3 linked regions of the Homo sapiens genome follow. The protein of the gene in region 1 purifies or fractionates together with the protein of each later gene. This does not show direct contact. Each region holds a gene or a part of one and is shown in the gene's direction. Other genes may lie near its edges.

The links.
Region 2: the proteins of SLC35F6 (region 1) and ATP6V1A purify together in Homo sapiens (co-immunoprecipitation; 2 studies listed by BioGRID and IntAct, with this or other methods). This does not show direct contact.
Region 3: the proteins of SLC35F6 (region 1) and CRELD1 purify together in Homo sapiens (affinity purification with mass spectrometry; 2 studies listed by BioGRID and IntAct, with this or other methods). This does not show direct contact.

The regions. Positions count from the first base shown.
Region 1 is NC_000002.12:26,766,957-26,774,390, forward strand, and holds part of SLC35F6 (solute carrier family 35 member F6 precursor), read left to right. Parts: intron 1-7,294; coding exon 7,295-7,367; intron 7,368-7,434. UniProt on the Homo sapiens protein: Involved in the maintenance of mitochondrial membrane potential in pancreatic ductal adenocarcinoma (PDAC) cells. Promotes pancreatic ductal adenocarcinoma (PDAC) cell growth. May play a role as a nucleotide-sugar transporter.
Region 2 is NC_000003.12:113,777,635-113,785,068, forward strand, and holds part of ATP6V1A (V-type proton ATPase catalytic subunit A), read left to right. Parts: intron 1-1,106; 5' UTR 1,107-1,119; coding exon 1,120-1,201; intron 1,202-3,415; coding exon 3,416-3,544; intron 3,545-6,589; coding exon 6,590-6,804; intron 6,805-7,061; coding exon 7,062-7,199; intron 7,200-7,434. UniProt on the Homo sapiens protein: Catalytic subunit of the V1 complex of vacuolar(H+)-ATPase (V-ATPase), a multisubunit enzyme composed of a peripheral complex (V1) that hydrolyzes ATP and a membrane integral complex (V0) that translocates protons.
Region 3 is NC_000003.12:9,928,877-9,937,267, forward strand, and holds the start of CRELD1 (protein disulfide isomerase CRELD1 isoform 2 precursor), read left to right. Parts: upstream 1-4,957; 5' UTR 4,958-5,044; intron 5,045-5,174; exon of another isoform or gene 5,175-5,543; 5' UTR 5,544-5,562; coding exon 5,563-5,736; intron 5,737-5,958; coding exon 5,959-6,041; intron 6,042-8,391. Other genes in the region: IL17RC (interleukin-17 receptor C), read left to right, coding at 973-1,021, 1,152-1,273, 1,524-1,583, 2,019-2,067, 3,732-3,827, 3,944-3,982, 4,077-4,717. UniProt on the Homo sapiens protein: Protein disulfide isomerase. Promotes the localization of acetylcholine receptors (AChRs) to the plasma membrane.

The DNA.
Region 1 (7,434 bases):
ATTTTGGGGTCATTTAGAGTTGTTAAAAGCATAGAAATCATCCAGTCTAATCCCCACAATTTACAAAGGAGGCCTCAGGAGAAGTTTCTTTCTGTGATTCAACTGTTTGGTGTCTGAATGAAGGCTGGAACCCAGGCCTCAGGACTTTAAGTCCTGTTCTTTTATGACTGTGATACCCCAGAGTCCCTCCTTCCTGGGAGTTTCCTCTCACAGCTCCCCAGGCCAGGACAGAGAAGCCTGTGCTTGTGGAAGTTGTAAACCTGTAAGTGGCATCTGCGCTCCCAGCCTTTGATGTGCCTCTCTCCAGGACTGGGCTGCCAGCCTCTCAGCCAGCCCAGAGACACTGCTGACAGGGTCCTCCCGCTGGAGTCCAGGCCACTCAAGGTTCAGACTGACAGCCTGTGGTTGTCTCTGGCAGTTTCTTGGCCTGTGACAAGAGTGATGTTTCCCTTCCCAGGTTCTTGGGAGGATGAAAGGCAGTGGATGAGGAAGCACATCTGAGCACGTGCTGCCTGCTGTGCTGGGGCGGCAGGTCAGCTTTCCTCTCTGCGGCCCCATCCCTGGGTCCTGGCAGGGGGCCCCTCCCTGTGAAGTGGCTTCTTCTTTCCCTGGCTGTTTTCTCAAAACCTCCTCACTAGCACCTTCTGTCGATCATCTTCTTTAGGCCAAGCCATTTCTGTCTACGTGAGCCAGTGCCCCATCCACAGGTACTCATTTCAGAACCCCAGTCTCCTGAATCCAACTGAGGTTCTACATATGAAGAGCCGGGGTCAGCTGGGCACTGTGGCTCCAGCTTGTAATCCCAGACTGGAGGCTGAGGTGGGATGATCATTTGAGCCCAGGAGTTCAAGATCAGCCTGGACAACATAGGGAGACCTCGTTCTCTACAAATAATAATAATAAATAATTAATTAATAGAGCCAGGGTCAAGTAGATGCTCACTAAGTAAGGCTCAGCTCCCCTCCTAAGTTCTGCAGGCTGTAGGGCCCTCCCAGCCAGGCAGGGATATGAGCCTGACTTCCTTTCATGCCCAGGCCAGGGACCCTGCCAAGAAGGTGGCAGGAAGCCTGGAAACCACTAGGCCTCTACTAGAGAAGAGGTGTTTGCTCTTCTTCTGTGTCCTTTCTGTGCCAGCTCCAATGTTTGCCCTTGGCAGCTGCCCCACCACCCTTGGGTTCCATGAACTGGCATGGGATAATTGCTTCAAAGGGGTTGTTGGGCCAGCTTGTGGAAGCCTTAACTCAGGAGGACAGTGTAGTAGAGTGGGAAGTTCATGAGGCTTGGGACCTGAGGAATAGATGAGCCACTGGACCTCTGTGAGCCTCAGTTTTCTCATCTGTAAAATGGACTTGGTGATCCCTGCCGTACCTTCTTCCTGGACACTGAAGATCTACTGAGGAAGGTTTCCTTTTTTTTTTTTTTTTGAGACGGAGTCTGGCTCTGTCATCCAGGCTGGAGTGCAGTGGTGTGATCTCAGCTCACTGCAAGCTCCGCCTCCCGGGTGAACGCATTCTCATGCCTCAGCCTCCTGAGTAACTGGGACTACAGGTGCCTGCCACCATGCCCGGATAATTTTTTTGTATTTTTTTAGTAGAGACAGGGTTTCATTGTGTTAGCCAGGATGGTCTCGATCTCCTGACCTCGCCCATCTCGGCCTCCCAAAGTGCTGGGATTACAGGCATGAGCCACTGTGCCCAGCCTTTTTTTTTTTTTTTTTTAAGACACGGTCTCTCTCTGTTGCCCAGGCTGGAGTGCAATGGTGCCATCTAGGCTCACTGCAACCTTGAGCCATCCTCCCACCTCAGCCTCCCAAGTAGATGGGACCACAGACACCCGCCACCGTGCCCACCTAATTTTTGTATTTTTTGTAGAGACAGCGTCTTGCCATGTTTCCTAGGCTGGTCTCAAACTCCTGGGCTCAAGCAATCCACCTGCCTCAGCCTCCCAAAGTGTTGGGATTACAGGCATGCACCACCACACCCAGCTTAAGGAAAGTTTTCCATTCCATGGAGATGAGAGGGCTCACCATTGTCACCTCAGGAGCCAGGGCCACCTGCTGTGGCACCCCAGAGAGTGGAGAAGCCTTGGCCCTTCTGTAGGTCCCAGGCAGGAGAAAGAAGGGGACTCACTGGGCTTGACAAGCTGGGGACACAAGAGGAAGTGGCAGAGATTCTGTGGGAATGGCCACAGCTAATCTGCCCAAGCCAGCCCCATCGCCACTTCCTCAGTCTGTTTTCGCCACCCCCGTTCACGTGGACGTGCACACCTCCCAGAATGCTGAGCTTTGAGTTTGGGCCTGGCCATGCTAGGGAGTGACTCACCACCCAGCACGGAGAGCCTACTCCCCAGCCTGCCCGCCAAAAGGAGCGGCCTCAGCTTGTCCCCGCTAGGACCCTTCGGGCCTCCTGCCCTGGAGGTCATCTCCCCTAGAATACAGTGTCTGTGGAGAAGACAGGCCCACCTACTGGGCTGCCCCTCTCCTCCCACCAGCTAGGGGAGCAAGAACTCAGAGGAGAGCTTCAGAGCATCAGGGAGGGGGCGCATGACTGCCTGCTGAGCTTCCAGTGTACTGGCCCTGTTTCAACATCTGAGGAGCCGTGAGCCCCTCGAGCCCTCTCTGGCCCCTGGGTTCCTGTCTGTCAAATAAGGAGTTCAGCTGATGGCTGAGTTTCTTCTGTTTCAGCATTTTGGCTCTGTGAACTGCAGGGACAATAGCCTGAGGTCCCTCCAGCCACCTCTGCCTCAGCCAGCAGGACAGGTTCCAGACGTTTTTCCAGTAGCTTTCAGGCTGAAGGGGAGCTGGGGCCACGCTGAACCCAAGGGGGAGATGGCTTCTGCTCAGTGAAGGGAAAGGAGAAGGGGCAGAAAATGAGTTTTGCTGAATACCTGCCATGTGCCAGGTCATGTATATATCCTTATATCATGTATTGCTTCTGACAGTTTGTCAGTGTTGGTATGATTACCCTGTAACTTGTCCAGCCTGTGGGACTCAAAACTCTGGGTTTTCTCTGTATTCTGCCTTTTCTGAGTATAAATTCAAGCAAGGTTTAACCCTGGATCTGCCTTAAGCCTCAGAGTCCCCATCTAAAATGAGGATCCTTGTTGTAAGGCTTAACGGGACAGTCCCCATGAAGTGTCCTATGAATTGTGCATTTAAGGAAACATGGGCTGGGTGCAGTGGCTCACACCTGTAATCCCAGCACTTCGGGAGGCTGAGGCAGGTCAATCTCTTGAGGCCAGGAGTTCGAGACTAGCCTGGGCAGCATAAACAAGGCTGCATCTTTGCAAAAAATACAAAAATTAGCCGGGCATGGTGGCCCATGCCTGTAGTCCCAGCTACTCAGGAGGCTGAGGTGAGAGGATCATATGAGCCTTGGGAGGCTGAGGCTGTAGTGAGCCGTGATTGTGCCACTGCACTCCAGCCTCAGTGACAGAGTAATACCCTGTCTGAAAAACAAAACAAAAAAACAAACGTTGTTGGCCGGACGCAGAGGCTTATACCTGTAATCCGATCACTTTGGGAGATTGATACGGGTGGATCACTTGAGGTCAGGAGTTCGAGACCATCCTGGCCAACATGGTGAAACTCCGTCTCTACAAAAAATATAAAAATTAGCTGGGCATGGTGGTGGGTGCCCGTAATCCCAGCTACTTGGGAGGTTAAGGCAGGAGAATCACTTGAACCTGGAAAGCAGAGGTTGCAGTGAGCCAAGATCGCGCTGCTACACTCCAGCCTGGGTGACAGAGGGAGGCTCCGTTTCAAAAAAAAAAACAAGAACAAAAACAAAAGACAACAAACAACAAACGTTGTGAAGAACTGACAGCAAAGTGCTGCCCACCTTAGGGGTCACTGCTGTCATCCCCAGGCAAACTGGGGCTGGATTTTTGTTCTAGCCTGTGAGGCTGGGGTCTTTTCTGATTCTGCGCCAGGAGTCGAAACCTGTCTCCAATCCAGGATGAGAAGCCTGGCTTTCTGCCCCAAGGTACCTGCAGGCCTGAGCATCTCAGGCTGGGCAAGGCAGCCCATGCTGCTGACACCCAATCCCTTGGGCTGTCAGCCTGCCCCAGGCCCTCAGATACAAAGAGATACCATTTCCCCAGCCGGGAGCGCTGCCAGCCAGGCCTGTCTAGGCAGACCTACCCGTGGAGAAAGCGAAGACAACCCCTGTGGGAGGTGGGGAGCTCAGCACCAGCCCTACAGTCAGCTCCCCAAGAAGCGCCCCAGCCTTGGGGAAGGACAGGCCCCGAGGGGTTTCCCCTATGGACCAACTTGTTCTACCAGCAGGGGGCCCTCAGACTCAGGTGGGAAGTAGGACTCATGGAAATGTGGCCTCAGCTTCCATACCTGCCCCCTACAGACAAAAATAATAATAAAATAAATAATAATCCTTGCCTGAAGCTTCTGATCAACCTTCATGGCCTGGCAATAGCTCCCTTGTCCCTCCTAGAGGAAACTTGGCTCCTGGCCTGGGGATTCCCATCTCTCTGACTTCACTTGCTCTGGGCAGTTGGCTCTGTGCCCTTGGTAAGGCTTGACCTCTTCTCTCTTCCTTGCTTTGCCTCTGTTTCACTCAGTTGCCTCATGCAGGCCTTCTCAGGGGGCTCTTTCTGCAAAAGCAAGACTGGGTTCGAGAGCAGCCCTGCTGGGTCTGTGGCCCTTACCCATGTTCCATGTCCTGTCCTGGCCAGGGATCCAAGAGCCAACAGCATATCAGGCAGAAATTAGGCACCATGGGTGCAGTGGCTCATGCCTATAATCTCAGCAACTCAGGAGGCTGAGGCGGGAGGATTGCTTGAGCCCAGGAGTTCAAGACCAGCCATGGCAACATAGTGAGACCCTCTCTCTAAAAAAAAAAAGAGAAAGAAGTGAGACTCCAGCCCATGAGGTCAGGTGTTTCCTGACCTGGGGTGGAGGCTTCCCCAGCTCCCAGACTCCCTGTTCCATAGCAGGCGCTTTCTTTGCCCCACTGGTACTGGTTACAGCCTGGTCCCCAAGCCATGCCAGGCTCCAGGTTTCTCTCTGCCTTCTAAACAGTTCTGTCCGAACTTCTCCCTTCAACTCTCCTTTGCCCCTGCCATTCCCAAGAACCACAAGGAATCTTAACTACCCCTCTTTCTCCACATCTCCAGGAGCTGGTGGGGTCTCTCACTATGGAATAGGTTTGCCATAGCCCTGTTTTCTTCCGCAAACTCAGAGGCATATAGAGAAGCCAAAGCTGGACAGGGACTTTGTCAAACCTAGACCCTAACTGCGGCACAACCAGTGGCACATGCTCTGGGTGCTGCGGGGGAGGTACAGGAACCAGAGGACTCCCCCGCCCTTTGGGAGCTGAGGCTCGCTACAGAGATGAGCCAATGGCAGTGCAGGGCTGTGCACTGCAATCTGACTGCCCTGGAAAGACATTTCAAGGAAAGGCATTTAATAAAAAGAAGTCCCGAGTCTTGCACTTTAAAGACATCCACTGCCTATGCAGGATATGCTGCAGTGGGAGCAGGTCGGTGGCCCACAGGAAACGGCTCTGGGACTGTGTTGACTTCAGTCAGCACATGATGTTACTGATGCATTTGGAGCTGTGTCAACGAACCCAGGGTGTCAACATGAGGGAGGGCCACGCCTTGCTAGCCTCAGTCTGGGCCAGATCACATGCTCTTGGCTCTGGGCCTGGGTACACCAGAGTACTTCCAGAAGTCAGTGGCCAGGGGTGAAAGGTTAGGAGAGGCTGGAGCTGTTTAGCCAGGAGATGAGAAGATTCAGAAGAAGGTCAACAAGTCCCCAGGTACCTAAAGGGCTTTCAAATGAAAGATTAGACAAGATTCCACAGACCTAACCAAGCCCAGCAAAGACGAAATTCAAGACAGAGAATTTTCATGCACAGATGGCAGACAGTTCAGAGTGATTGGTGGTTAAGCTGCCCAAAGCACTATGCCACAAAGGATTCTGGGCTTGTGTCTAGGCTCATCGGGGAAGTATGTCATAATCAGTCATCACCATCTGCCGGGTGCTGACTGGGAGGTCATGCCATGAGTGTGATGTCTTTGCCACCTGCTTGAAAGTCAGCATTAGAAAGATCTTCCAAACCATTCAGGCTTTTTGAAGGTGAGCAGGTGGTCTGTATTAAGTCATTTCCCAGGACCCAAATACTCCTGTAGACCAGAGGTTCTTGATATTTTTCATGCCATGGGACTCTTTGACAGTCTGGCACAGCCTATGGACCTCTTCTTACAGTAATGTTTTAAAACGTGTAAATAAGACCAAGGATTGGGCCAGGCACGGTGGCTCACGCCTGTAATTCCAGCACGTTGGGAGGCTGAGGAGGGTGGTTCACAAGGTCAGGAGATTGAGACCATCCTGGCTAACACGGTGAAACACCGTCTCTACTAAAAATACAAAAAAAAATTAGCCAGGCGTGGTGTCGGGCGCCTGTAGTCCCAGCTGCTCAGGAGGCTGAGGCAGGAGAATGGCGTGAACCCGGGAGACGGAGCTTGCAGTGAGCCGAGATCTTGCCACTGCACTCCAGCCTGGGCGACAGAGCGAGACTCCATTAAGAAAAAAAAAAAAAAAAGACCAAGGATTACAAAAGAAGTCAATTAAATTGAAATACAGTTATCAAACACTTAAAAAAGCAAATTCGTGATATAGAATATATATAGATATGCTTTTTTTTTTTTTTTCTGAGACAGGATCTTGCTCCATCACCTAGGCTGGAGTGCAGTGGTGCAATATCGGCTCACTGCAGCCTCTGTCCCCCAGGTTCAAGTGAGTCTCATGCCTCAGCCTCCTGAGTAGCTGGGATTACAGGCTTGTACCACCACGCCCGGCTAATTTTTGTATTTTTAGTAGAGACGGGGTTTCACCATGTTGGCCAGGCGGTCTCGAACTCCAGACGTCAAGTGATCCACCCACCTCAGCCTCCCAAAGTGTCGGGATTACAGGCGTGAGCCACTGCGCCCAGCTATATAGAAATGCTTTCTACTACATTGTTATAAGTGGGTCTGACTACTGTAATGTTCATGAGTGATGAGTGTAAATGATACCTCACGATATATACAATGACTGTAATGTGATCATGAGAGTATCTGTGATTTCTGTGCATTACAGAGGCACAGACACAGTGACTTGAGGAAATGCCAAGTTAAAACTCCTTGAGGTGAAGACTGACCCCTTTGAGAGGGAGCCCCACTCTGGGGCCGGGTCACCCAGGTCTGGGCCTCTTGACATTGAGAGGTGTGAGCCTCTTCACTAGCACCAGGGTAGGATGCTGACAGGGTCTGACCTTCCCTCTCTCTCCTACAGATGGGCGGACAATTTCATGGCCGAGGGCTGTGGAGGGAGCAAGGAGCACAGCTTCCAGCATCCCTTCCTCCAGGTATCTGGCCCTGTCCCTCCTACCTCCTGTCTCCCGGGCCTCAGACCAGGCGCCACCCCCGGCCATG
Region 2 (7,434 bases), on another chromosome or scaffold:
CCCAGGTACTAGGGAGGATGAGGTGGGAGGATCTCTTGAGCCCAGGAAGTTGAGTTGGCTGTGAGCCATGATCACACCATTACACTCCTGCCAAATCGACGGAGACAGACTGTGTTAGAAAAAAAGACCTGAAGGAGGTGTAGGAGCAGATACCTTGGAGAATAACATTCTAAGCAGAGGGAACAACCTGTACAAAGGCCCTGAGGTAGAATGTGCTTGTGTTTTTGAGAGCTGACAAAGAGTTCAGTGTGTATCTGCAGCATGATTAAGTGAAAGAGTAGCTGGATAAGTCAGAGAGGTCATTGAGGATGGGCTTGTTGTGGGGGTGGATAAGTTATTGAAAAGACTTCACATTTTTTGTTATAGTTATCGATATTTCCTATGAAATACCTCACATAGAGATATAATTCAGTTGTGATAAAACCATCCAGCATCCAGGAATAGGGTACTTTTAACTACATTTTAGGAATTTTGGCTGGGTTCAGTGGCTGGCTCACGTCTGTAGTCCCAGCACTTTGGGAGGCTGAGGTGGGTGGATCACTTGAGGTCAGGAGTTTGAGACCAGCCTGGCCAACGTGGCAAAACCCTGTCTCTACTAAAAATACAAAGATTAGCCAGGTATGGTCACGTGCACCTGTAATTCCAGCTACCCTGGAGGGTGAGGCACAGGAATTGCTTGAACTCGGGAGGCAGAGGTTGCAGTGAGCAGAGATCCTTCCACTGCACTCCAGCCTGGGTGGTGGAGTTAGACTCTGTCTCAAAAAAACAAACAAACAAACAAACAAAAAACTAGTTGGGCATGGTGGTACACACCTGTAGTCATAGCTACTTGGGAGGCTGAGGCAGGAGGATCGCTAGAGTCCAGGAGTCTGAGGCTGCAGTGAGCTATGACTGTACCACCACACTCCAGCCTGGGTGACAGAGAGCCTCTTAAAAATTTTTTTTAAATTAAGAAAAGGAATTTTTTTATTCTACTTTGAAGAAGTATAATAACTCAAGAATACACCAAAGATGAGAGTGGTCTCATCTTAGTGGACTACCTATATTTTGGGTCTTTTGCTTTACGGTTTATAATTATAACTTATTTATTTATTTATTTACTATAGGTAAACTAACATTATGGATTTTTCCAAGCTACCCAAAATACTCGATGAAGATAAAGAAAGCACATTTGGTTATGTGCATGGGGTCTCAGGACCTGGTAAGTAATACATCATAATCTCAAAATAAGGATATCTAACTTTGATTAATGTCTTTTCAAAATATTTTACATAGAAATATACAACTTTCTGTTTACCTGCATAAATTCTGTTTGTCCTTAGGCGATCTCATAGTGACTATAAGACCGAAGTAGAATCTCTGTCATAAGGGCTCATCTAGCATTGATTATCTAAATTTTATAATTATTGAGGTACTACTTTGTGATATCCTGTTTATAATTATGTAAATGTTCAACCAGTGTTCAGTTTTATATGTCTTAATTTTTTGTTAAATTTGAGGTAAATAAACTATGAAGTTTATAGCTTTTAATATGTAATACCTTGCATATAGCAGGCATTCAGTAAATGTTAATTTGCTTTGAACTTTAATAATTCAAACGCTCAGAGCATTTCTCAGCAATATTAGCTTTTGCCCTTTGCATTTATGAAACTTTTTGAATGGTTATTTTAAGTGTCACATTATTAACTACCTGTGGGAAAGAAGTCTTAGGACCCAAACTTTATGTCCATTCTGCCAAAACATGGAGTGCTGCTTTTTAAATAATAAATCTTACGCCAGTATTTGTTTTGTTATTGAATACTCCCACTACACAATGTGATTCACAGTCACAGTTTCTCTAAGTAAAACCTGGTCAGTGATGTATTATCCTTAAAACCTCATGCTATATAGTCTTTTTCTTGTTCTAGTTAGAGTAGTGGTGATGACAGTTTTTTGATGTTTACGCAAATGAAGACTGTCAGTCACTGTGCCTCTTTTTTCTCCCCCAAGAACTTGGTGTTTGAGCTTGATTTCATTGGCAGGTCATTAAAAGGTTATCAGTATCTTTTGCCATGCAGAGAAATAATTGTCCTCTCAATGATCATAAGGGTCTTCAGGATGGACAGACTAAACCCAAGAACCTTTAGAGAAAAGGCAAAAGAACATCAGAGAGTTTAGGAAAAAATATTCTGTGAAACTGTGTAGTAAACTGCTCCTGGAAACAATTTTTATTTTATTTTAAAAATTTTTTTAAATTTTACTTTAAGTTCTGGGATACATGTGCAGAAAGTGTAGGTGTGTTACATAGGTATACATGTGCCATGGTGGCTTGCTGCACCTATCAACCTGTTACCTAGGTTTTAAGCCCCACGTGCGTTAGGTATTTGTCCTAATGCTCTCCCTCCCCTTGCCTCCTGCAATTTTTAATTCTTAAGTACTTAATAAGGTAATGGAACAATGGCATCCTTTTTTGGCTTATGAAATATGATTTTTAAATTTCATTATCTCTGGTATTTCAGTGCATCTTAATTCTTAAGTAGTCGGCATAGAGGTAAATATTTATAGAATGAATAAGTCTTCATTGTTTTTACACAGGTTAATTAACTCATAAAGCTTTAATAGTTTCCACTGAAGTATTACCTATAACATAGTTCTAATCAGTTGTATCAGAAGGCTAAATATTAAAAATTGGTTTATTCTTACACGTGTCTAAAAATATGGCAACCTTCCTTCCCTGCTAGAAAAGTAATTTTTGCTTACTAGACCACATGGTCCAAAATAGTAAGTTCAGTAAATGGAATTCCATTGACAATTTCTTACCCAATGGTGGTGACTGATTATAAATATCCTTACGGCCTATGAAAAAAATTTTGTAGATGTGTGTGTGAGTTTTTCTAGTAGAGCTATTATTAGTTTTTGAAAAGGGTCCATGTCCCAGAAGAGTTTTAAGAACTACTGCTATAAGTTATTAGAAAGTAAACATGTTGCTTTAGGTCTGTCTCTCAAAGGAAATGGTAACAGCACAGCGAAGTGATAATTGTGTGGCATTCTACCATACTACTAGCCAAACCATTTATTCCAATTTCTACTTTTAAAAGTTTTTTTTATTGTTCCAAAGCCTTCACTCCATGTATCATAGCAACTCTCAGAACATACCTGAATCCTACCAGGTAAGTTTGCCATGCAGAACTTGAAATGTTTGAAAAGTTTTCATGTATATTATGTAAATAAATAATCTTTGGCTTACCTCTTTATATTATACACTAAAATATATATCTATGTGAAACTACCAGTATGTTCCATAGTAGGTTTTTATCCTTCTTATGAATATATGAGAGAGGCACAATACTGGGTTTATTGGGTGTTTTAATTATTTGTGACTATTCACAGAGCACTAGAGTCTTAAGTCATCAAAATAGTCTTTTGTTCTCTTCAGTGGTTACAGCCTGTGACATGGCGGGTGCAGCCATGTATGAGCTGGTGAGAGTGGGCCACAGCGAATTGGTTGGAGAGATTATTCGATTGGAGGGTGACATGGCTACTATTCAGGTGTATGAAGAAACTTGTATCCTTTTTGGCTCAATTTCCTGCCACTTTCTATATTTCAAAATTTAAGGATTTAGGCCAGGCATAGTGCCTCACACAAAGTAATCCCAGCACTTTGGGAGGCAGGCAGGTGGATCACCTGAGGTCAGGAATTTGAGACCAGCCTGGCCAACATGGTGAAACTCCATCTCTAATAAAAATACAAAAATCAGCTGGGTATAGTGGCAGGCGCCTGTAATCCCAGCCGCTTGGGAGGCTGAGGCAGGGGAATCGCTTGCACCCTGGAGGTGGGAGGTTGCAGTGAGCAGAGATCGCACCACTGCACTCCAGCCTGGGCAACAGAGTGAGACTCCATCTCAGAAAAGAAAAAAAAAATTGAGGATTTAAGCCAAAGGTGGAAGCAGCAAAGCAGCAACAACTAATGATATTAGAAGCATGAAATGCTGGTGTTGTGAAGAGACCTGAATTATGCAGGAGTATGTTAAAGAAAGAGAGAAAAGTACTATGAATTGGTACTCTTATTTTAAGAAATTAGTATCTTCTGAACTTTCATTGCTCTTACTGCTTCAGTAATTCATGAACTTAAGGGGGACCAAGTGAATTTTTTCTTCATTGGGACGCATATTGTAGAAGAAAGCGTAAACAGAATAACAATATTGACTTGTGAGGTTAAAATTCTCTAATTATGATTTCAGTTTAAAATAGTAAGTCCACAAATAAAACGGTCACCATTCTTTTGATAGCACTGAGTGACATATTACATTTCAGTTTTATTACTAGGAAAGCTTTACTATTTGGTTATCATAATTTTGGCTTTTAAACATAGTATTTATTTTCAATTTTCTATGAAAAATAAAGGGTTAAGCCTAGTGAAGAAGAACCACTTTTTTAGTGCTTCTATATGTGTTTTACTTTGATTCTCAAAATCAGCATTAATTCTTTGAGTATTTAATCAAGATTTATTTGGTACGACGTTTTTGCCATTCTAAAACACATGCGTGCAGATAACTAGTCTCTTTATAGTACTAGGTGCCAATTTAAAACAAAATCATCTAGAAATTTTAAATAAAAATAGAAGTTTTTGTAGCTATGAAATTGTGACTAATCAGAAATATTTTTTCTATTTTTACTTTTATCTTTTAATCTGTTTAATCTTTTTCATGGCTTGAAGATTTAAAATAAATGAAAATGTAAACAGTGACAACCCTCCTTGCCTTTGTTGTCTTGTATCTAGCCGTTTATCAAAACACATACACACCTCCATGCACACATGGAACCACATTTATAGCTCCCTTTATTTTATATCCTTCTAGTTTAGTAATTACATACATGAGCAAATACAAATATTTGTATTTTTCTTTCCTTTCTCTCTCTCTCTCTCTCTATATATATATATACATGTGTATATATATACGTATATATATACACATATATATATATATACATATATATATGGTTTTTTTGTTTGTTTGTTTGCTTTTTGAGACAGAGTCTCACTCTGTCGCCCAGGCTGGAGTGCAGTAGCATGATCTCGGCTTACTGCAACCTCCGCCTCCCAGGTTTGAGCAATTCTCTGCCTCAGCCTCCCAAGTAGCTGGGATTACAGGCACGTGCCAGCATGCCCGGCTAATTTTTTGTATTTTTAGTAGAGATGGGGTTTCACCATCTTGGCCAGGCTGGTCTTGAACTCCTGACCTCACGATCCACCTGCCCCGGCCTCCCAAGATAGCATATTTTAGGTACTGTTATACACCTTGCTTTTTTTCACTTAAAAGTATGTGTATTCTAGAAGATAAATAGATATGTGATAAATATAGTAAAATGTTAAATATAGAACCTAGCTTGTAGAGACTGGGAGTCCACTGTAAAATTCTTTCAACTTTGTTGTTGTTCTGAAAATTTTCATAATCAAAATTGGAAATGAAAATACATAGTTTAGAGAGATTTCTAGAGGAATTCATGATAACTCTGGTTCTTTTTTTTACAGCCATATAACAATTCCATCATATAAATGTACCATTATTTACTTATCAATGTCTTAATGATAGAAGTTTTGGTTTCTAGTTTTTGGTTGTTATAAACAGTGCTACATTGTAAGTATAGTAAGAATTCACAGAAGTTGGATTCCTAGGTCACGACTTACCCATTTTGAATTTTGATAAATATTGCTAAATTGCTCTCAGGAAAAGTTGTACTGATTTTACTCCTGTCAACAAATGTGTAGAATAAAGTGGACTCATTATGCTTATTTATATATTTTATTCTTATTTGTATGTTTTCAAAATAACTTTATTCTTAAGATTTTAGGTTTTGTCCAAGTACTAATACCCTTATTAGGGGACTGATATTCCTCAGCAGCATATGTGAAGCAATGTATTAATGAGGGAGTTTTGCTTCTGTTTTTAGCCCTGTGGTTCCCAAACTTTGCAGAGTCATTCTGAGAAGCTGCAGCAAACTCATGTGGTGCCAGGATATTTAAAATTTTTGAGGCAAACACAGGAATGTTAGACATATTGTCAGACACCACATGAACTAGTAGCTTGAGATAATAAACAGTTTCATTATGTTGCTGTACTATATTTTTGTCAATGATGTCATATCTTTGCAAAGCTGAGTTTTTGGCAGTTGCTAAGCTACAAAAGCAGGTATCATGTGACAATCAAAATGGAACAAGTTTCCAATCTGATTGCAAGATTGGAAAATTATATAGTTCCCCAAGGGCATATACATTCATGAGAATTATGGATATTTAGGACTGAAATTAATATTATTTTTTCTTTCAACTTATGCATATATTTTTTCAAATTGCTACTCAGTTGTTAGGACGTATATACATATTAGGTTGTTTAGACATAACTGTTTAATAAATGCAAGTGTTAGATATATCTTTTGTCCTGGGACACTGAAAGAAGTTACTGAAAACACTATGAATCCTGTGAACTGAGAAAGTTTGGGAACTTCCGTTTTCACTTCTTGAGTGGCATTTCCTTGTTAAACTGTGGTATTTCCTGTTAATTGTGTCTTTAAACCTTCATAGTAGGTTTTCCTTAGCTGCTGTTTTTAGCTGGTGTGTCTGTTGGAGATCCTGTACTTCGCACTGGTAAACCCCTCTCTGTAGAGCTTGGTCCTGGCATTATGGGAGCCATTTTTGATGGTATTCAAAGACCTTTGTCGGATATCAGCAGTCAGACCCAAAGCATCTACATCCCCAGAGGAGTAAACGTGTCTGCTCTTAGCAGAGATATCAAATGGGACTTTACACCTTGCAAAAACCTACGGGTATGTCTGTGTAACCAAGAATTTCTGAAGTTATTGAAAGAATATAAAATGAATGTTTAGTAAACTACATTGTACTCTTAGTCCAAATAAAAATAGACTACAGAAGGATAGTTTAAAGTTTTTCTTAACTCTACTTCATGGGATTTTAGAACTAATGTTTTATTGATAAGTCAGGTAATTGATTTAAATTATAGCAGCAGGGGCAAGTCTACTTGACATTTATTTGCAAATTAAACAGCAAATACATTTATCTCTAGGTTGGTAGTCATATCACTGGCGGAGACATTTATGGAATTGTCAGTGAGAACTCGCTTATCAAACACAAAATCATGTTACCCCCACGAAACAGAGGAACTGTAACTTACATTGCTCCACCTGGGAATTATGATACCTCTGTAAGTATCATTTGAACTTTATCCTGCAGAGTGCCTCTATTTCTATATGATAGCTGCCCAGTTTTAGTGCCCTAAGTAATTAAAGAATTGATATTTAATACATAAGTTTTGAGTAACTCCTATAATTTTTGAAAGTTTTTGTTTGTTTATTTTTAACTTGGATTTAGGGATGAAAAAGCAGAACATAGTATTTCTTTTTAAAGAAATGTAACAGTTTTCTACCATATTAACTGAT
Region 3 (8,391 bases), on another chromosome or scaffold:
GAAATAAGAGAAGTGCTTCCCCTTAGGAATCGGTACAGACTAAATGCTCCATAAATGTAGCCACTTTTATTATTGCTATCCTTATTCTATTTCCATACCTGTAGAATGGGTTGCTCTACAGTTTCAAAGGGTGATTATAAGAACATTCACTCATCCGGCCAGGCGCGGTGGCTCACGCCTGTAATCCCAGCACTTTGGGAGGCCGAGGCGGGCAGATCACGAGGTCAGGACATCAAGACCATCCTGGCTAACATGGTGAAACCCCATCTCTACTAAAAATACAAAAAATTAGCCGGTCGTGGTGGTGGGCACCTGTAGTCCCAGCTACTAGGAAGGCTGGGGCAGGAGAATGGCGTGAACCTGGGAGGCTGAGCTTGCAGTGAGCTGAGAGGGCGCCACTGCACTCCAGCCTGGGTGACAGAGTGAGACTGGGCGACAGAGTGAAACTCCGTCTCAAAAAAAAAAAAAATTCACTCATTCAAGATTTTTTGAGCAGCACAAGTCACTGTTTTAGGCACTTGTGATAGACCCTAACATCTCTACCCTCATAGAACTTATATTGTAATGGAGAAAGGCAGGCAACAGACATTGTAAATAAATCATATAGTATCTTAAAATTGCATACAAATACCATGGGAAAGGGATAAGGTGGGACTGGGGTTGCAATTTTTAGCAGGGTGGTCATGTGAGAAAGGAATCTCTTTGAGAAGGTTAGATGAGAGGGGAACCATGCTCCGTAAGACATAAAAACAGCTTTAGGGTCAGAAGACGCTTTATACAGATGATCTCACAAGGCTGGGGCAGAGAAAGATGTAGTGATTCCTAATCACCCAGCCTTGAATCCACATCTGCCTCAGGTCAGATTGAGTGCAGATTCCCAACCCAACAGGCCTTCTGTTGCCTGCCCCATTCTGGTCTTTCTGCCTTTGGCTTTTGCTTTTCTTAGTGGCCCTAACCATGGTCTCTTCCCAGCAGGTGAACAGCTCGGAGAAGCTGCAGCTGCAGGAGTGCTTGTGGGCTGGTGAGTTGGGCCTGGGGGCAGCTGGGGCAGGGCCACCTCCTAGGGGTGAAGGTCAGGGCATGGGAGGCAGGCAAGTGGCCAATCCCAGCAAGGATGGGTCTTGGTCAGAGTGGCCTCTCACCCCTTCCAGACTCCCTGGGGCCTCTCAAAGACGATGTGCTACTGTTGGAGACACGAGGCCCCCAGGACAACAGATCCCTCTGTGCCTTGGAACCCAGTGGCTGTACTTCACTACCCAGCAAAGCCTCCACGGTTAGGACTGGGCGACCCTCCTCCACAGATCTCTCCAAATGCATCTCACATCTGGCCTCAAATTTTCACTCCATCCACCCTGTGCCGGTCTCTGGGAACATGGGGGGTGACTCAGACCAGGGCCATATTCAGCGGCATCACCAAAGTCTCCCAGTCCCCTCTACCTCATTCTACCCAGCTGTAGCCTGGTAGGTGCTGCCCTAAGGGTGCTACCTCCAGGTAACAGTGCCCCCATCCTTTGGCTTGGCAGAGGGCAGCTCGCCTTGGAGAGTACTTACTACAAGACCTGCAGTCAGGCCAGTGTCTGCAGGTGAGCTGGTGGAAGAAGGGCCCCACCTCAATGCCTAGGGGCAACAGGCCTAAAACTAGCACTCACCTACTGTCTATTTAGGCTTATTTTATGTTCAGCCCTGGGAAAGTTAAGAGTAGAAGAAGCACAGTTCCTATCCCCAAGGAGCACACTGTTGGCTAGACACCCATAAACAGATAACCACACCTACAGGTGCTAAGTTTTGGGTTCCAGGGAGAGCTTCCGGGAAGAATTTCTTCCTATAAGCCAGATTTGGTATGGAAGAAGTCATACCCTAGTCAGTGGGCACAGCACAAAGGCAGAGCAGCTGCAGGAACCTTAGCCGGGAGATATGCATAGTTGATGCTGGGAATTTGGAGATCAGGCCACCAGAGCTTGGTGAATATTGGAACACCTGGCTGGTGCCCTGGATTTGGTTCTGTTTGTATCTTACAGCTATGGGACGATGACTTGGGAGCGCTATGGGCCTGCCCCATGGACAAATGTGAGTATTGTAAGAACTGCCTTTCCTTTCTGTACCAGGAGTGGGGATCTTGACAGGGACCACTCTTGGGCACAGCACATGCAATGGCCTTGTCCTTCCCTGAGATCAGATAAACAGAGGGTCATTCCTTCATTCACTCAAAAAATGATGAGAGCTTGCAGGGATCGCAGGAACACCAAAAATATAAATCCTTGCCCCCGCCCCACCCCTAGAAGACTAGCAAGACATGAGCCAGTCACTTACATTTAAAGTGGGAGCTACTGAAGCACCACCAAGTGTTCAGTGCTGTAAATGCATACAATGTGGACCTGACCTGGGTGGGGTGAGGGGTGAGGGGCTCAGGGGGAAGGTTCCAGCAAAACTCTGAAGACTGAGCTAGGGGAAGGGGGTAGAGATACAGGGTCTTGGACAGGCAGGTTTCTGTCATGAGATAAAGATGCAGGAGACATGTAGGGGATTTGGATCTTATGTTGAGAGCAGCAGGAGCTACGATCAAATTTTTATATATTTCACACACACACACACACATATATATATATATATATATATATATATATATACTTATTTTTTTATTTATTTTTGAGGCAGAGTCTCACTCTGTTGCCCAGGCTGGAGTGCAATGGCGCGATCTCGGCTAACTGCAACCTCTGCCTCCCGGGTTCAAGCAATTCTCTACCTCAGCCTCCCGGGTAGCTGGGATTAATAGGCGCCTGCCACCATGCCCTGCTAATTTTTGTATTTTTAGTAGAGATGGGGTTTCACCATCTTGGCCAGGCTGGTCTTGAACTCCTGACCTCGTGATCCGCCCGCGTCGGCCTCCCAAAGTGCTGGGATTATAGTCGTGAGTCACCGCACCTGGCCCAAATTTATATTTTTAAAAGATCTCTGAGGCTGTCATGAATCAATTCAAGGCAAATCAATTGGAGGTAAAAAAAAAAAAAAAAAGACAGGGCAGGGACACCAGGTAGTTGCAGACACCCAGGACAGCAAGATCAAGGGCCCAGCAACCCTAGCTTAGGGGAGAAAAACAGCTGACATTTTAGCACTTAAGATGCTCGGCATTGTGTTAAGTATGTATTAACACATTGTGTTAAGCTTTATATGTATTAATATATTTAGTCCTCACACCAACCCTATGACACAGGTACAACTTTACAGAGGAGAAAACTGAGGCAGAGGGTGACATTACTTATTCAAAGACCCCTAAACAGATGGAGCTATATTCATCCACTGGCTCTGACACTGTGCTGTGGACTCTGGGCAAATCATTTCTTCGTTTTTTGTTTTGTTTTGTTTTGTTTTGAGAGGAGTCTCACCCTGTCGCCCAGGCTGGAGTGCAATGGCGCGATCTCGGCTCACTGCAACCTCTGCCTCCCGAGTTCAAGCGATTCTCTTGCCTCAGCCTCCCGAGTAGCTGGGATTACAGGCGTGTGCCACCACGCCCGGCTAATTTTTTGTATTTTTAGTAGAGACGGGGTTTCACCGTGTTAGCCAGGATGGTCTTGATGTCCTGACCTCGTGATCTGCCCGCCTCGGCCTCCCGAAGTGCTGGGATTATATAAAGGCATGAGCCACCGCACCCGGCCCAATTCATTTCTGTTAAGTCTCAGTTTTTCTTCTCTGTGGAGGGTAAGTTTCTAACTCTTCTTCTCTGGGTCTCCCAGACATCCACAAGCGCTGGGCCCTCGTGTGGCTGGCCTGCCTACTCTTTGCCGCTGCGCTTTCCCTCATCCTCCTTCTCAAAAAGGATCACGCGAAAGGTGAGCGCTTCCCGGCTCCCCATTCCCCTGGGGGAGGACCAGAGTGGCTGTGGGAGTTCTCCGAGGGAAAGCGGCGGCCGAGCTCACTGGCTGCCTCCGCCCCTCTCCCCTAACAGGGTGGCTGAGGCTCTTGAAACAGGACGTCCGCTCGGGGGGTGAGTGGGAGCAAGCGCTGGGCGGAGGGCCGCCCCCGGGGAGCCAGGCCTGTGCCAGCTCACCTCTTCCCTCCCCATCTGTTTTCTCCGGCAGCGGCCGCCAGGGGCCGCGCGGCTCTGCTCCTCTACTCAGCCGATGACTCGGGTTTCGAGCGCCTGGTGGGCGCCCTGGCGTCGGCCCTGTGCCAGCTGCCGCTGCGCGTGGCCGTAGACCTGTGGAGCCGTCGTGAACTGAGCGCGCAGGGGCCCGTGGCTTGGTTTCACGCGCAGCGGCGCCAGACCCTGCAGGAGGGCGGCGTGGTGGTCTTGCTCTTCTCTCCCGGTGCGGTGGCGCTGTGCAGCGAGTGGCTACAGGATGGGGTGTCCGGGCCCGGGGCGCACGGCCCGCACGACGCCTTCCGCGCCTCGCTCAGCTGCGTGCTGCCCGACTTCTTGCAGGGCCGGGCGCCCGGCAGCTACGTGGGGGCCTGCTTCGACAGGCTGCTCCACCCGGACGCCGTACCCGCCCTTTTCCGCACCGTGCCCGTCTTCACACTGCCCTCCCAACTGCCAGACTTCCTGGGGGCCCTGCAGCAGCCTCGCGCCCCGCGTTCCGGGCGGCTCCAAGAGAGAGCGGAGCAAGTGTCCCGGGCCCTTCAGCCAGCCCTGGATAGCTACTTCCATCCCCCGGGGACTCCCGCGCCGGGACGCGGGGTGGGACCAGGCGCGGGACCTGGGGCGGGGGACGGGACTTAAATAAAGGCAGACGCTGTTTTTCTACCCATGTGGCCCACACGCGTCTCCGTTTCAGTGGCGGGGCTGGCAAACGTCATTCCCTAGCCCCGCGGCCCTTTAAAGCCCGGACAGGTGCAGCTCGGTGCCGCCTCTGGTTGGCTGGCGTGGGGTGACGTAATGGCACATGGCCCGTCGCCATTGGCTGGGCGGCAAGCTCCGCCCCCTGGACTGCGGCGCGGGTGGGGGTTGTGCGTTTTACGCAGGCTGTGGCAGCGACGCGGTGAGGAGACGGCCCACGGCGCCCGCGGGCTGGGGCGGTCGCTTCTTCCTTCTCCGTGGCCTACGAGGGTCTGGATCCTTCTCTGCCGGCTCGTGGGCCGTGCCTTTGCCCTTCTGCGAGGCCCTGAATCTGATCCCTTCCCTTCATATCCGGATCCGGGCTCCTCCCTCCAAGCCCGGGGTTCCGGACACCTCCCCCAAGACAACCCCTCTGGCCTCCTCTCCTTCAGTACTTGGAATCTGATCTCTTCTCCCTAATTCTGCGGATCCGGCCCCTAATATTCTTTATCAGACCCTCAGACAAGAGGCTGACTTCTGCCCCCTTGTCAAGGAGCGAGGCCACTTTCCTCTCCACCCCATGCTAGCGAGGATAACTTATTTCTCTTCTGGAATTGCATCTTATGCGCCTTTCCCCACCCATCCCCACAGCCCCTGCAATACCCAGTTTGGCCTCTTTTGCTTGTAATAACGCAGATCCCAGCGCCACGGCACCTTAGAACAGACCTTTTTCTTTCTCGCGTGGGGCCTGACTCCTTCAGTGAAGCCTCTCCACGCCCTCTATCTGCAGGTCCCCAGCCTGGGTAAAGATGGCCCCATGGCCCCCGAAGGGCCTAGTCCCAGCTATGCTCTGGGGCCTCAGCCTCTTCCTCAACCTCCCAGGACCTATCTGGCTCCAGCCCTCTCCACCTCCCCAGTCTTCTCCCCCGCCTCAGCCCCATCCGTGTCATACCTGCCGGGGACTGGTTGACAGCTTTAACAAGGTGGGTGCACCGGCAGCCTCGTTAGAGGGGAACACAGCGATTTAGAGTGGGGAACTCTGGGATGCAAATCTGCGTGGATTTAAGTTTCATCTTGGTCTCTTACTAGTTGTATGGCCCTAGGCAGGTTGCCTTTCTGTGCCTCAGTTTCCTAGTCAGTAGAACAGTGAAGTGCTAGCATGTGCCAGGCACTGTACTTAGCTATTACTAATTTTCTGTTTCCAGGGCCTGGAGAGAACCATCCGGGACAACTTTGGAGGTGGAAACACTGCCTGGGAGGAAGAGAATTTGTCCAAATACAAAGACAGGTAAGGGGCTGCTGGGGGAAGGGGTGTATATTCCCCTCCCCGCCAAATCTCTGCTCTGCTGGTGTAGGGCTAGGAACTCTTGGGGAGCACTTATTCATTCAACAAATAGCACTGAACATCTATAGTATAGCAGTAAACAAGGCAAGCAAAATGCCCCCTTCCTGGAGCTCACATTCTAGTAGAGAAGACAAGCAGTGAATGAGTAAGTGAATAATATTATGTCAGATGAAGAACAAACAGTGAAGCACGGTAGACTGCAGGACGGTGGGAGGCAAGGTGTTCAAGGTTTGGCATTTGAACAGAGAGACAGGAAGTGAAGAAGCGAGCTATGTGACAGGGAGGGAATTGGGCAGAGGATGGGACTGAGCTTGGTGTATTTGAGAAGTGGCTGGAGTGGAGTGAGCCAAGGGGAGAGTGCTAGAAGGTGAAGGCAAAGGCTTAAGCCTCGAGGGCTACAGAAAAGAGTTTAGATTTTTTTTGGAGTGTAATGGGAAGCTCTTGGAAGGCTATGAGCAGAAAAAGTGATACTGTCTTCTCTACACCTTTAAAGATTACTCACACTGCTATGTAGCAAACGGATTGTAAGGGGCAAGGGCGGAGGAAGCAGGGAGACCAGTTTGGGAGGCAAGTGCATCATCTAGGTACAAAGGCAACACAAGCTAGTGTGGTATCTAGTGGAGGACATGATGAAGAGGTCACAGTCTGGGTATATTTTGCAGAGAGAACAATAGGACCTGGTGATAGATTCATTATGGGTATAGAGAAACAGTAGAATAAAAGATGCTTACTAGATTTTGGGCCTGAGCAACTGGGTGAGTAGTGCAGCTGTTTTCTAAGATGGTGAGATGCGAAACCGAGAAGGTTTAGGGGAGGGGTGGGATGTGGTGTTCTTTGAACGTATTGGGCTGAAATGTCCATTAGACATCCAGGTAGACTCCATACAAATCTGGAATTCAGAAAAGAGTAGGAATTGGAAACAGGAATTTGAGAGTTGTCATTATATAGTCAGTATGTAAAGAAAGCCATGGGAAGGATACAGAAAGCCATTATATAGTCAATATATGTAATACAGAAAGCCATTTATATAGTCAGTATGTAAAGAAAGGCATGGGAAGGATACAGAAAGGCGAGCCCTGAGCCCTCCAGCTTTTCAAAGTCAGATGGAAGAGGAGTCAGCAAAGGCTCAGAGTTAGACCTGGTTGTCGGTTCTTAACCTCTCAGAGCCACAGTTTCTTCACCTGTAAAATGGGGATATTAATACCTGGTTTGCCTATTTCATAGAAGTGTGGAAAAGGCTTAACTGGGATGCCCACTAGAAATAAAGGTTTTGTTATTATGTAACATTGGTCATTTTCTCTTTTCCTTCGCCGGGCCTGAGTTTCCTCATTCAGGAATGAGGGGATTGGCTAAGACAACCCCAGAGGCACTTCCAGCTTTGTAATGGCTCCTGCGTTGCTTGCTTTTTTAAATCACCTCCTATATGCCAGGCACTGTGCCAGACCCTTTAAATACAGGATATAAGACATCAAATATTTATATATGTGTGTATATATATGTGTGTGTGTATATATATATGTGTGTGTATATATATGTGCATATATGTCTGCGTATATATATGTGCGTATATATATGCGTATATATATATATATATGTATATATTTGTGGTAAAATACACATAAAAAATTTCCCATTAAAGACATTTAATAATATTTACAATGTTGTGTAACCATCACCACTATGTAGTTCCAGAACATTTTCATTACCCCCCCAAAAAATCCTATACCTATTACACAGCCACTCCCTATTCTCCCCTTCCCTCGGCTCTTGGCAATCACTAATTTGTGTTAGTCAAGCAGAAATTATGGATTTGCTGATTTCATTGGAATCATAAAATATGTGGCCTTTTGTGTCTGGCTAGTTTCACTTAGCATAATGTTTTCAAGGTTCACCCATACCGTAGCATATATCAATACTTATTCCTTTTTATGGCTGAATAATATTCTCATTTGGCTGTACCACATTTTGTTTAACCATGCATCAGTTGATGGACATCTGCATTGTTTCTACCTTTTGGCTGTTGTGAATAGTGCTGCTATGAACATTGTCTACAAGTTTTCGTTTGAACACCTGTTTTCCATTCTTTTGGGTCTATATCCAGTAGTGGAATTGGCAGGTCCTATGGCAATTCCATGTTTTACTTATTGAGGAACTGCTTTTCCACAGTGGTGATGCCATTTTGTATTCCCACCTGCAGTGTGGGAGGATTCTAATTTCTCCACATCCCTGCCAACACTTGTTATAGGATGTATTTTTAGCCATATCTACCCAGCAAGGGTATTATATTCCATTG